Regions from separate parts of the Homo sapiens genome. Here regions 1, 2 and 4 are each reported to be linked to region 3. The links are microRNA targets in miRTarBase. Many come from high-throughput screens and were not tested one by one. Region 3 holds a microRNA gene; each other region holds the end of a gene's coding sequence.

Evidence for each region. Region 3 holds the annotated microRNA hsa-miR-1296-3p (GAGUGGGGCUUCGACCCUAACC, at 2,186-2,207, opposite strand). A microRNA usually pairs through its seed, bases 2 to 8, with sites in the 3' UTR of a target mRNA and lowers its output. Matches are read on the target gene's strand: a 7mer-m8 pairs with bases 2 to 8, a 7mer-A1 pairs with bases 2 to 7 and ends in A, and an 8mer does both.
Region 1: miRTarBase lists GNB2 as a target of hsa-miR-1296-3p. Seed matches in the 3' UTR shown: 7mer-m8 at 2,773-2,779 and 7mer-m8 at 2,627-2,633.
Region 2: the mRNA of TBRG1 is a reported target of hsa-miR-1296-3p. Seed matches in the 3' UTR shown: 7mer-A1 at 898-904.
Region 4: miRTarBase lists OIP5 as a target of hsa-miR-1296-3p. The part of its 3' UTR that is shown has no 7-base or 8-base seed match.

What each region holds. Positions count from the first base shown.
Region 1 is chr7:100,678,512-100,681,589 of GRCh38, reverse strand. GNB2 (G protein subunit beta 2) reads right to left here. Exons shown (of 10, transcript NM_005273.4): 9 at 2,976-3,078; 10 at 2,421-2,895. The coding sequence ends at 2,789. GIGYF1 (GRB10 interacting GYF protein 1) reads left to right here. Exons shown (of 27, transcript NM_001375765.1): 27 at 1-2,083. Among named protein-coding and RNA genes, the nearest start is that of GNB2, 6.3 kb to the right of the region's middle. RefSeq lists an enhancer at 2,233-2,362.
Region 2 is chr11:124,631,681-124,634,746 of GRCh38, reverse strand. It overlaps TBRG1 (transforming growth factor beta regulator 1), which reads right to left. Exons shown (of 9, transcript NM_032811.3): 9 at 1-2,654. The coding sequence ends at 2,509. It overlaps SIAE (sialic acid acetylesterase), which reads left to right. Exons shown (of 10, transcript NM_170601.5): 10 at 1-1,634. Among named protein-coding and RNA genes, the nearest start is that of TBRG1, 10 kb to the right of the region's middle.
Region 3 is chr10:63,370,784-63,373,861 of GRCh38, forward strand. It overlaps MIR1296 (microRNA 1296), which reads right to left and starts at 2,265; the gene lies at 2,174-2,265. The region is part of intron 2 of JMJD1C (jumonji domain containing 1C); the gene reads right to left.
Region 4 is chr15:41,307,001-41,310,078 of GRCh38, reverse strand. It overlaps OIP5 (Opa interacting protein 5), which reads left to right. Exons shown (of 5, transcript NM_007280.2): 5 at 230-806. The coding sequence ends at 325. OIP5-AS1 (OIP5 antisense RNA 1) reads right to left here. Exons shown (of 5, transcript NR_152821.1): 3 at 1,455-1,512; 4 at 1,238-1,359. Among named protein-coding and RNA genes, the nearest start is that of OIP5, 24 kb to the left of the region's middle.

The DNA.
Region 1 (3,078 bases), not on the chromosome of region 3:
ACAAACACACGATGCACCTTAACTCACCCACCACGAGGCACTTTACAGACTGGGGGAGGGGGTTTTTCTTTTTATTTTTTTTTTTAATTTTAAACGACTGAAGAAAACATTAGGAGAGGCAAAAATATTGTTAAAAACTAGACTCTAAACACCCCTTCCTGCTGTGAGGATAGTGGGTGTGACAATGGAAGGTCCACAGAGGTTTTTGTTTTTTGGTTTTTTTTTTTTTTTTAAGAAAAAAAGATGAAAAATGAAAAAAAAAATGGTTAGGAGGCTGAAAGAAAAAACACACTGTTATTTTGGGGCAGTGGGGACACAGGCCCCGTGGACCTGTCCTGCCTGGCCCCCAAGGCCATACTTACCCCCCAGAAGGCGGGCCATGGGGTAACTGGAAGCTGGGGGCCAGCAGTTTGCACAGGAGGCCTGTCTGAGCCCCACCCGCCAGACCTGTTGTGAGCAGCTCCTGTCACTGAGGCTGGCTGAGGTGTCCGGGGTGGGGCCAAAGTAGCCCCTTGGCTTCGCTGCTTTGGGGGACAGTTGCACAAATTGGACGAGTGGCCCCAGCTCTCTGGCTGCCATCTTGTGCTGGCCGAGTAGACGGGAGGGGCCAAGCCGTGCCAACCTCTCTGGCTGGCAGGGTGGGGCAGCAGGACTCTGGTTCTGGTGAGGGGCGTCTCCCACTGCTGCCATTTTGGGGGACACCCTGGGTTTGAACCTGAAAGCCCCAGCTCTCTGCCTTGCCACGTGAATGTATTCTTTGGGCCACAAGCCCCCGCCTCACCCCTGCCTGAGCTGCCTCACCCCTGTGAGCGGCGGGGGTGGATGATTGCTCCAGAGGCTGCAGAGAGAAGGCTGAGCTGTTTCTCCAGTGAAGGGGGCAGGAGGAGGGGCCTCAAAGGCAAGGAGTGGGTGGCTTTGGGCTTAGGGTTGCAGTAGAGGGGCTGCCGCCCGGGGCCCCAACCTGTAGCCAGCTCGTAAGATGTGGACCACCCAGCTCTGCACCTGACCCTTCCGCTGACCAAATGGGAGAGGAGCAGGTGGCCTTCCGGGTCTGATATGATGCGCTTTTTACCGTTGGGTAAGGTTGGGGTGAAGAGAAGTGTGCGGCTCCTGGGTCAGAGGAGGCTGCCCCTTCTATTGCTCACCCACTTCTTATTCCCGGTCCCCTACTTGGGTTCGTCTCCGCCCATTTTGGGTTTTGTAACAGTTTTGTCTTTTGGGTTTCTCATCCAGCTCCTCCCATTGACCTCATTGCTCAGAGTGCAGTATTAGGGCAAGGCTTCGCCACTGCCTCCCTCCATGAATGTATTTCTCCCTCCTGCCCTGGGGACATGGGGAGTGGCCCGTTTCTTTCCCCATCTAGTCCCAGAAAGATGGTGTTTGGTTTTCTGTTGTTGGATTTTTTTTTTTTTTTTTTTTTTTTTGCACCAAAGTGGCAACTAGGTCAGTGTTGGGGGATCAAGCTGGCCTCGGGGTGGGGGGCCCCCACCTGCCTCTCCCTGGTTCCCACAGTGTTAGCGTCCCTGAAAAGACAATATTCTCTCTAAAGCAATAAGGGGTGACGGGCCGGGGGGAGTGTTTGCTGCTGCTGGCCCCCAGCTCCCCTTCCCTCTTGCCAGGTGTGGGGGAGACTCCTGTTGTGACTGAATGTAACCCCCCCACCCCTGCCGCAGCCAATGCAGGGGAAGGGGGACACTCTTCCTGTCTCTTCTCCCCAGCTAAAGAGACTTTGGACTTAGGGGGCCCATGAGCCTGGAGAGGCCTTAACCCTGTGAGGAAGTATAGGGGGAGCCCTCTCCCACCCCCATCCCCTTCTGAGAGTGGTCAATGTTTACAAGCCCCTGAGCCCCCCTGCCCAGGGACTCAGACCCTGTTGCTGTCCTTCCCCGGCCCCGGTCTTCCTGGGCCCTCGCTGCTCCCCTGCCCTTCCTGGGGTTGGGGTGGGTGCAGGGGTCACCGTGTTCCCTGTCTGCCTTGTACCCACAGTCTCCCCGCCCCCTCTCCACCCTGTGTGACTTCCCTCTCTTTTACCTGCTCCTGTAAATACTCCCTTCTCCCAATAAAACTTGGTGTGTGTTCTCCCGTTCCGCCTCCACTGCTCGTTATCTGGGGAGAGCCATGGGGATGAGTGGCTCTGCACAGAGCTGGGAACTAGGAGCTCTGAGCAGTGCCCGCCTGGTCAGGCTGGCTCTGGTCAGCAGCCTGACGGGGGAAACCATGGTGAGGGCTGCTTATCCGAGAACCTCTGGACGGAAGGCTCTGGGCTGGGGCTTCAGCTTTGCTCTGAGGGAGAGTGGGGACCCCACCCCCAGCCCCAGCTGCCTGGCAGGCCCCATACCTTCCCCACCATCCACCCCCTCAGCAGCCCTCAGGCAACAAAGTCCAGAAACAAGGAGAACACAGCAAGGGCAGAGACCAGGTACAGAGTTGGAATTGGCTCCTTTATGGAAAAACTGAAAATATAATAAAAATTAAAATAAAACCAGTTTTAAAAAAGCCAGCCCCTGGGGTTTCCACCTCCTGCCTCCGGCCCTCCAGAGGGGTGAGGCCCCAACCCCAGGGCAGCAGAAGGATGAGGGCCTCCTGCTCCTCCTCTTCCCCCATTCCATCCCCTTCTTATCTCCACAGTGGGGGCCCCGGGAGGAACCAAACCTGGGTGGGAGGGCAGGGACCCAAGGCCCCGTGGCCCGGGGAAGGGGGCTGGGATTGCGCCAGCCCCGCAGCCCTGGCCTGTAGTGTGGGCATGGGCAGGGCCCCTCCTGGCCTGGGCCCAGTGGGGGTGGGGCCATTAGTTCCAGATCTTGAGGAAGGAGTCCCAGGAGCCCGTGGCCACAGCCATGCCATCGTCGGTGACCCCGAGGCAGCTCACGCGGTTGTCGTGGCCAGCGAGGACTCCTGTGAAGAAGAGAGAAGTCAGAACCCATTGGGCCTGGGCTCCAGGTCCCTGCCCACCCAGCCTGGGCCCCAGCTGTCACCTGCACGGTCGCCCTTCATGGCATCCCAGATGTTGCAGTTGAAGTCGTCGTAGCCAGCGAGCAGCAGCCGTCCGCTGCGCGAGAAGGCAACAGAGGTGATGCC
Region 2 (3,066 bases), not on the chromosome of region 3:
CTTATGTAAATAATAGAATATAGATTTAGAGTGTTTCAGTTTGTGGAAGCCTCATTTTATTTAACCAATTTCCTATTAATGGACATATAGATTTTTAACAATTTTCTACTATTAAAATAATACTGTAATGAATATCACATGCAAACATCATACCACACTCGTCCAGTTATTTCTTAGGGTTCTTAACATGGAAGAGGATAAATATATATTTAAAATTTAGATATCTACAGCTTAACCCTCCCAAAGGATTAAACAACTTACATTCTCACCAAGGTAGTCCTTTTTTTGCCCTCACCCTCATTGACACTGGATGTTGTCAAATTTAAAAAAAATCCTTAACAATCTGATAGATGAAAAGATAGTTTAAGTATACTAAGGCAGTGTTTTTCAAGGTGTTTTTGTTTTTGTTTTTGAGTTGGAGTTTTGCTCTGTTGCCCAGGCTGGAGTGCAGTGGCGCGGTCTCGGCTCACTGCAACCTCTGCCTCCCGGGTTCAAGCGATTCTTCCTGCCTCAGCCTCCCGAGTAGCTGGGACTACAGGCGCGTGCCACCACGCCTGGCTAATTTTTTGTATTTTTATTAGAGACCGACTTAGCCAGGATGGTCTCGATCTCCTGACCTCTTGATCCACCCGCCTCAGCCTCCCAAAGTGCTGGGATTACAGGCGTGAGCCACCGTGCCCAGCTTTTCAAGTTTCTTAAATCCATGATCCATAGTAAAAACATTTTACACATATCTTCATACAAGTATATGTATATGTGGTATACGTACACACTATAGTTGTATATGCATTATAGCTGAAAAACCAGTTCAACCTTTCTACATGTGGTATGTTCCAAAAATTTTAAATGTCTTTCTAAAATGAGGCTCTTTTAATACGGGTATTACTCAGGCTGTAATAGTGGGAAAATATTTGTTATATGATAAAAGCAGCATATATCATTTCTGTGTAAATGCCAGTATGCTCAAGCCATTTATGCAGAGAAAAAAAGAAAAACACTGCATTAACATTTTAAGCAGTCCCCTTCCCGATTTGCTATTATACAAAGTTTGTTTCTTTTACATTGTAAAGTGTATACAACTTATAAAAAGACTATACTCAAAATCATAAAATACCAGTTAACTTAGCTTCTCAGTTTACAGTGGCCAGTGTGGTGTGCTCTAAACACTGCTGCCTGATCCCTCCCTCTGCTGGTCAGATTTATTACTATAAAGTACCAATCCCATTTGTGTTGTCCTCAATTGGCAATTATGAATGGCAGTGCATTAACCATTCAATTCTCACCACTCCATCCCCATTCTTCTACTTCTGGGTCCTTTTGTCCCTCCCTTTCCAGACAGCCCTTGGTAACCTGCTGCTGGGTAACTAAGGCATCCCACAGGTAGTGTTGAGGTGTTAGGTGATAGAGTAAACCTCTACCTTAATGCTATTAACAGGGTCCAAAAATCCAGTTGCATGGAACATGGAGTTATATTATTACATGGCTAATGAAAAGACAGGACTAAGTCTGTTATAGAGTATGGGACTAACCCCCAATTATATGTGAATTTGTGTTATCATATGGTTTCAGTGTACTGAGCTAAAAAGCACATTATCTGAGGTGCAATACAAAGGTTAAAGAGGTTAAAGATCCCCTTGAAGGATGTGCAAAATGTGAAGAAAAAGATGAACAGTGTACCTTGGACTGGACTTTCCATCTTGAGTTTAAGCAGAACATTGGATTTTGATGATACTGACATGAAAATTAAGCAGCAGCCTGGGTTGCAGGGGCTGGGACTTGATATTCCTTGAATTAGGATCACAATCAAGAGTAGAAGTTTGTCAGAATCTCCCTATCTCCCTCGTTAGTCAGCTGCTGCTACTACAGACTTAATGTTTATATGTCCCCAAAATTCATGTTAAATCCTAACCCCTAATGTGATGGTATTGGGAGGTGGGGCCTTTGGGAGGTGATTAGGTCATGAGAGCAGACCTCTCATGAACCGGCTTAGTGATCTTATAAAAGGGACCCCGGAGAGCTGCCTTCCTCTTCTACCACGTGAGGACACTGCAGGAAGACAGCTGTCTAAGAACTAGGAAGTGGGCCCTCACCAGACATTGAATCTGCGCTCCTTGAACTTGGACTTCCCAGCATCCAGAACTGTGAGAAATAAATTCATGTTATTTATAAACCAACCTGTCTATGGTATTTGTTGTAGCAGCCTGCAGCTCTCTATCACTCTTGTTTATAAGAGGCTGAAGTTTACTTTACCTCAGGCAGAGCTAAGCAAAAAAGATTACATCCCGATTACAAGATGAAAGTAAACAGAATTGACAAGAGAAATTTATTACTAAAAATAAAGCAGCTGAAGGTTTTCCCAGGGAAAACCATCACCACAGGACCTTCCATGATGAAATACGTTAGTATCTTCTTTACTTCTGAATTGCTGCCTTCTTTCATATACCCAAAATTTTAGTTTAAGTTAAATTAATCACGACAAAAACGATGTGGCATCTGATCCCTTCTTGTTCAATCTGAAGACTGAATTGGGCTACCCTGTGATGGAGACTTCAAGTGCTGCAGGTGAGTATCTACCAAGGGTTCATGTGTCAGGTACATGGGCTGGTAAGAAGACACAAAGGCTGCAGGCTGAAGCTCTGGGAGGTCCAAGGATCCTGGAGAAAACAATTCCTTAAGTTCCACTGCTGCTCGGGAGTCTGGGCAGACTGTTTTGGTCAGACATATACATGTCCTTTCAATCAATTCCTTAACACCCTTGCATTTGTCAGCTCAATTTTGCCTTTGTTAAGATAGGACAGATACTTTTACAATGAAAACTGGTTGAAACATTAAGTGACTTGCCTAGGGTTATATAGTATATTAGGCAAAGAGTGAGAATTTCAATTCCATTTTTTAACCCAGAGTTTTCCCTATATGACCCCAAAGCCTGAACCCTTGATCACTCATTTGTGGGAGGAACTCATGGAACACAGGCAGGGCCAAGGCCTTGACTTGACCCCACTGACTTCACTTGAAATGTTATTCCCTGCACAGTAAACTTTCCCCTGGTGTTCTGCTCCAGTCTTG
Region 3 (3,078 bases):
AACAGAAACATAAAACAAGTTTACTAAAATAACTCATTTGAAGAAGACTACCTCCAAAATATAAAATACTGAATAACATCATTATATGAAATTTCCAATTTGCTAGGAAATAATAGTTGTTTTTTAGGGAAAAGACAATTTTGGTCAGGCAAAATTCTGCCATAATATAAAATAATGATCTCCATTACTTTATAATATATATATTTTCCGTTGAGACAGGGTCTTGCTCCATTGCCCAGGCTGGAGTGCAATGGCATAATCATAGCTCACCATAGCCTTGTACTCCTGGAGTCAAGCAATCCTCCCACCTCAACCTCCTGAGTAGCTGGGACTACAAGGCTTGCGCCACTACAATAGGCTAATTTTTTTTTTTTTTTGGTAGGGATGAGGGTATAGCTATGCTGCCCTGGCTGGTCTTGAACTCCTGGACTCAAGCAATTCTCCCGCCTCAACCTCCCAAAGTGCTGGGATTATAGGCATGAGCCACTGTCCCTGGTCTATAAGACTTTTTAAATACATAATTCTAGTGCTGATGTAATTAATTTTTTTTACTTAAATTTTCTCTACATTTTCCTAAAGTATGTACAATTATCACTTTTAAAGCTGCATAATATGCCAAAATATTAATTTAACAGCATTCACAAATTGTTGAACATCAAGGTTGTTCCATTTTTCTTTTCCTCTTTAATAAGACTGCAATAAACATCTTTCTTCTAATAACATTAAACCTTTCATTTTTTTAATCTGCAGCTCCCACCACAGTGTCTAATTCGTATGAGGTACGTGACAAACATTAGCTAAACTGAATACACTTTTTAAAAACTGTTTTTCAAGCATCGTTTCCTAAGACTAGAATTAATGAATCAAAGAGTATGAACTTCTTATGGTTCTTATAACATAATACTTTCCAAAAGAATAATGTCATTTTATAATCCACAAGATATGAGTGTGTGAACTCGTTCATTGCAATACATGCCAGTATTAGAGTTTATCATTTAAAAAGCTTAATATTTTATTATGTATAATTTGATCTCTTAAAGTGCTTTACCTTGTAGAGAAATAACAATCCTGAAGTTATATTGTCATTACTTCCATTTCATTATTTAACAAAGTACAAAAAGACATGCAACTGTTTATTCTAATTGTGGAAATTCAATTATAAATATGTAAAAACTCTTTAAATGAACATACTCCAAAGTTTATTTCTGACTTGGAAGGTGGCATATTTTCACATTTTAGTAAAATTTGCTTGAGGCCATAATCTAAACCAACTTTGATAACTGCTGGATATAAAGGTAATCTTGTCCCAAAGAGCAGTGAACTCTATTCTCCTTTGAGGGGGTTTCTTTTGGAACAGATAGTAAGTAAAAAGCACTCTAAGAGAATATTTTAAAATAAATAAATTGCTAAGAGTTTACGTGTTTATGATGTCATCACAATTCCTGGTTGAACCAGAATTGCCTATCTATGAAGGAAAAGCTACATTGAGAAAAAGTAGTCTGAGTTTCCTAAAACTCAATTCAGAAATTCAAGTAAATTATCAAAGATTTGAATATTTAAGTCAATTGTGAGGACTTCTGTTTCTTCCTTTAACATCTTTAAAATAACGCATTTCAGGTAATTTTACATTTTTCCCCTTGGTGATTTCAGGAATCAAATTTGTACCTGATGAGAATTGGCATTATAAGCTTTTTAGTATTTTTTATTATATATTGACATGTTTAAAATTGGTAACTCACAGTTTTACCACAATTGGGTGATTCTGCTTTCCTGTCCTTTGATATTATCATATGTTAATAGTCAGAAAACTTGTGATAACTCCCAGTAGGGTTCTTTTTCACTAGCTGGGTTGCAGCACATTCATCACTTTAAAATAAGAATTTACTTTCTGAGATGGGTAAAGCACTGTGCTAGACTCCAAGGAACCATACATAGATGACTAAGACATGACTCCTGTCCTCAAAGAACTTACAATCTATTAAGGGAAGACAGACATGCAAACAAATAGGTATAATACAAAGCAGAATGTGCTGATTGTTAAAACAGAGGTACAAAACAAAGTTCTATAGGAGCACAGGATGGTTATATAGGAGCACTGGTTGGGGTGATCTGGAAGGCTGGGCCAGCGGAAAAGTAGTAGAAAACTCTGCCCCTTAGAAAACACAGCAGTGTTACAGCCCACCTGGGTTAGGGTCGAAGCCCCACTCCCCACAGAAGGTTTTCCTAAAGGAGATGGAGCCAGGGCCCTAACCCAGTTAGGTAGGTGATTCGTTGATTTCAATTATGAATGCCAACACTTTCTTTCCCTGGTGCCGATAAATGTGCTTTCACAAGTATTTTACTTTATTAAAAAGTAAATAAAATTTAACAATCTATTAAGTAACTTACATGAAGACGCAAGTTACCTCAGCCTACAGCATTAGAATGGCCTCAAGTGGTACTCTGATTGTACAGGACCAAGCAAAAAAAGACACCACTTCAGCATCTTACATGTGGTGCTCCCATAAATGTTTTGCTACTGATATCCTAGAAAGAAAGAGGAACCAGACAATTCCAGAGAAGGAGCCTGGGTATTATACTATTCATATTTTGCTGAAGATGCAATTATGTTAAGTTTTAAAAAATATACTTTAAAATATGTTAATGAGACAACAGGATTTGTTTTTGTCTTGTCATGATCTCAAGAAACAGCAGGTACACTGCCAGTTTCCACTAATTTCTAGGTATAAGAGGTAGACAAGATAACGTAACTGATATGTAATATTAAACAAGTACCACACGAGGAGTGAAACAACTAGAAAGAAGATAATAAATACAAACATGTTTAAATACAAAAGAACATAAAGCAAGTATCATGTGCACAGAAATAGAAACATTAAATTTGTAGAAAATTAAAGACAAAGTATTAGTTTCTACTGTTTCATTCTATTGCCATCTCATATACAGATCCCTCAAATTTCTCAAATCTGTAGATATAGTATTTCATTACGCTGTAGGAATTTTAAAACGCTTAACTTTATAATTGCTGTTTATAGACATCCTTAAAGAAGCCAAATTTTAATGAACAAAAAAGGAAAC
Region 4 (3,078 bases), not on the chromosome of region 3:
AACAAAGCAAGACCCCCATCTCTACAAAGAAAATTTAAAACACATGACTGTAGTCCTAGCTAATCAGGAGGCTGAAGTGGGAGGATCACTTGAGAGCAGGAGCTTGAGGCTGCAGTGAACTATGAATGTGCCACTGTACTCCAGCTCAGGCAACAGAGTGAGACCCTGTCTCTTAAAATAAGTAAAAATAAAAAAAGATGCCCTGATATCTATATATTTCTCTTCCTAGCTGAAAGAGAAGATAGTGCTAACGCACAATCGCTTAAAATCACTAATGAAGATTCTGAGTGAAGTGACTCCTGACCAGTCCAAGCCAGAAAACTGATCCTGTACCAAAGCTTGAGTGTCAGGTTCAGGCTTTATTGCTGTCTTCAACAACAGGTGCTGCTTAGTCATTTCTTGAAAAAGATTGGCTTCAAGAATGGAGGGGAAATGCAGTTTCTATTTACCTTTAGGCTGATTTTCCAAATTATTTGTGAAGCTGTTTTTAGAAGATGAGAGACTAAGGATTCTTCTCTTTTATAGCTATTTGCCTTAAGAACTTACTTTAGATTCTTATTGAATTCATAATACTTATCTCTGAAAATGTCTTTGACTGTAAATTTAGGAATTAAGATGCAGAGTCCCATGTGTCCTCTGATCTAAAGTTGCATGGTTGGTCTGAAAATAGAGTTGGGCTTAATGTTGACTTCTATTACTCCTGCATGGAGCAGTTGTTATGAATACTAATACATCACTTTTTAACTTCTGTAAAATACAGATCATAATATTCTATAGGTAATGTTTAATAAATTGCCTGAATAATATACAATTTGTCTTTTTCAGTTGTAAACTGAGGTTAACAGAGAAATAATGAAAGCAATGATAAAACGAAACAGTTACCAAAGTACTATTTTCTATAATTTTGTTTTATGTAGCACTTTGAGTAACTTATCAAAATATTAATTTAATATATATTTGTAAAGTGTTAGACTAGGTGCTGGGGATAAAAGGTAAGCAAAAATAGACACACTATCCTTAGAATTTATAATCTAGTCAGAGAGGGACATTCAAATAATCACATAAAGATACATAAAATTACAGGCCTGGCGCAGTGGCTCACATCTATAATTCCAGATTTTCGGAGGCCGAGGCAGTGGATCACTTGAGGTCAGGAGTTCAAGACCAGCCTCGCCAACGTGGTGAAACCTCGTCTCTACTAAAAATACAAAAATTAGCCAGGCATGGTGGTGCGCACCTGTAATCCCAGCTACTCAGGAACCTGAGGCAGAAGAATTGCTTGAACCCAGCAGGTAGAGGCTGCAGTCAGCCGAGATCGTGCCACTGCACTCCAGCCTGGGCGACAGAGTGAAACTCCATCTAAAAAAAAAAAAAGATATGTAAAATTATGACGCTAGTAAGGGTTTTGAAGTAAAGGAACATAGGGATACACGCACATAAAGCAGGTAACTGACCTGGTCTGGGTTTCTGGGAAAGAAAGCCTCTGTGTAGAAGTGAAGTTTCAGCGGTGGTCTGAAAGACGAATAGGAATTAATAAGGTGATGGAGGGATGACCTTTATGAGGTCCTTAAAAGAAGGCCTGCCTAATCAAATTTACTTTTTCAGAATGTCACTGTGGTTGTCCTGTGGAAAACAGGTGGGAAGGACAGCAAGCAGACCACTAAGGAGAGCCTTTGGCACTAGCACAATCAAGAAATTACATATCCAAGTGGTGGAGGATAGAAAAGCTAACTTGGCTGGGATGTAGCTAGCAGAATATATATATATAAATTTTTTTTTTTTCTTCCCGAGATGGAGTCTTGCTCTGTCGCCCAGGCTGGCGTGCAGTGGCCTGATCTCTGCAACTGCCATCTCCCGAGTGTTGAAGCGATTCTCCTGTCTCAGCCTCCTGAGTAGCTGGGATTACAGGTGCATGCCGCCACGCCCGGCTAATTTTTTGTATTTTAGTAGAGACGGGGTTTCACCGTGTTGCCCAGGGTGGTCTCGAACTCCTGAGCTCAGGCAAATCCACCCACCTTGGCCTCCCAAACTGCTAGGATAACAGGCGTGAGCCACTGCGACTGGCCTGCTTATGCTTTTTTTGAGGGGAGGGTGGTGAGACAGGGTCTCACTCTGTCACCCAGGCCTGAGTGCAGAGGTGTGAACATGGCCCACTGCAGCCTTGACTTCCTGGTCTCAAGTGATCCTCCCAACTGTATCCTGAATAGCTGGCACCACAGGTTTGTGTCACCACGCCTGGCTAATTAAAAAAAAAAAAAAAATTGTAGAGACAAGGCCTCACTGTGGGCTCAAACTGGGCTCAAGGGATCCTCACTTCAGCCTTCTGAAGTGTTGGAATTACAGCGGTGAGCCATTGTGCCAGGTCTGATTATGCGTAGAGTTGCAAAAATTTGGTCCTATAAGCAAGGTTGATGCTTTCTGGCAAAAACCAGCCCAATAAAAGCTTTTACTTTTTAAAGAATAAGACCTAATATAGGCCAGGTGCAGTGGCTCACGCCTGTAATCCCAGCACTTTGGGAGGCCAAGGCGGTCAGATCACGAGGTCAGGAGTTCCAGACCAGCCTGCCCAACATAGTGAAACCCTGTCTCTACTAAAAATACAAAAATTAGCTGAGCATGTGGCGTGTGTCTGTAGTCCCACTACTCGGGAGGCTGAGGCAGGAGAATCGCTTGAACCTGGGAGGCAGAGGTTGTGGGGAGCCAAGATCATGCCACTGCATGCCAGCCTGGGTGACAGAGTGAGACGCCGTCTCAAAAAAAAAAAAAAAAGACCTAATAAGTACCACATTGAGTCACCCCTGGTTGCTCTGGGCGACAGAGCAAGACTCCGTCTCTAAATAAATAAATAAATAAAATTAAATGCTTGACCTTTACGTCAAATTAAACTGGCTAGCTTTAAATAGATTTTTTTCAGATTACATGCTCACTCTAGAAAAAAGAGATGTGTGACAAAATACAGAGTGAAAGTATACTTCTTCCCTTTCTATTTTTTGAGAAGCACAATATAGCATCCTGGTAAGTGAGCAGGCTCTGGAACCAAACTGGATTGAAACTGTGGCTTGGGTACTTACTAGCCAT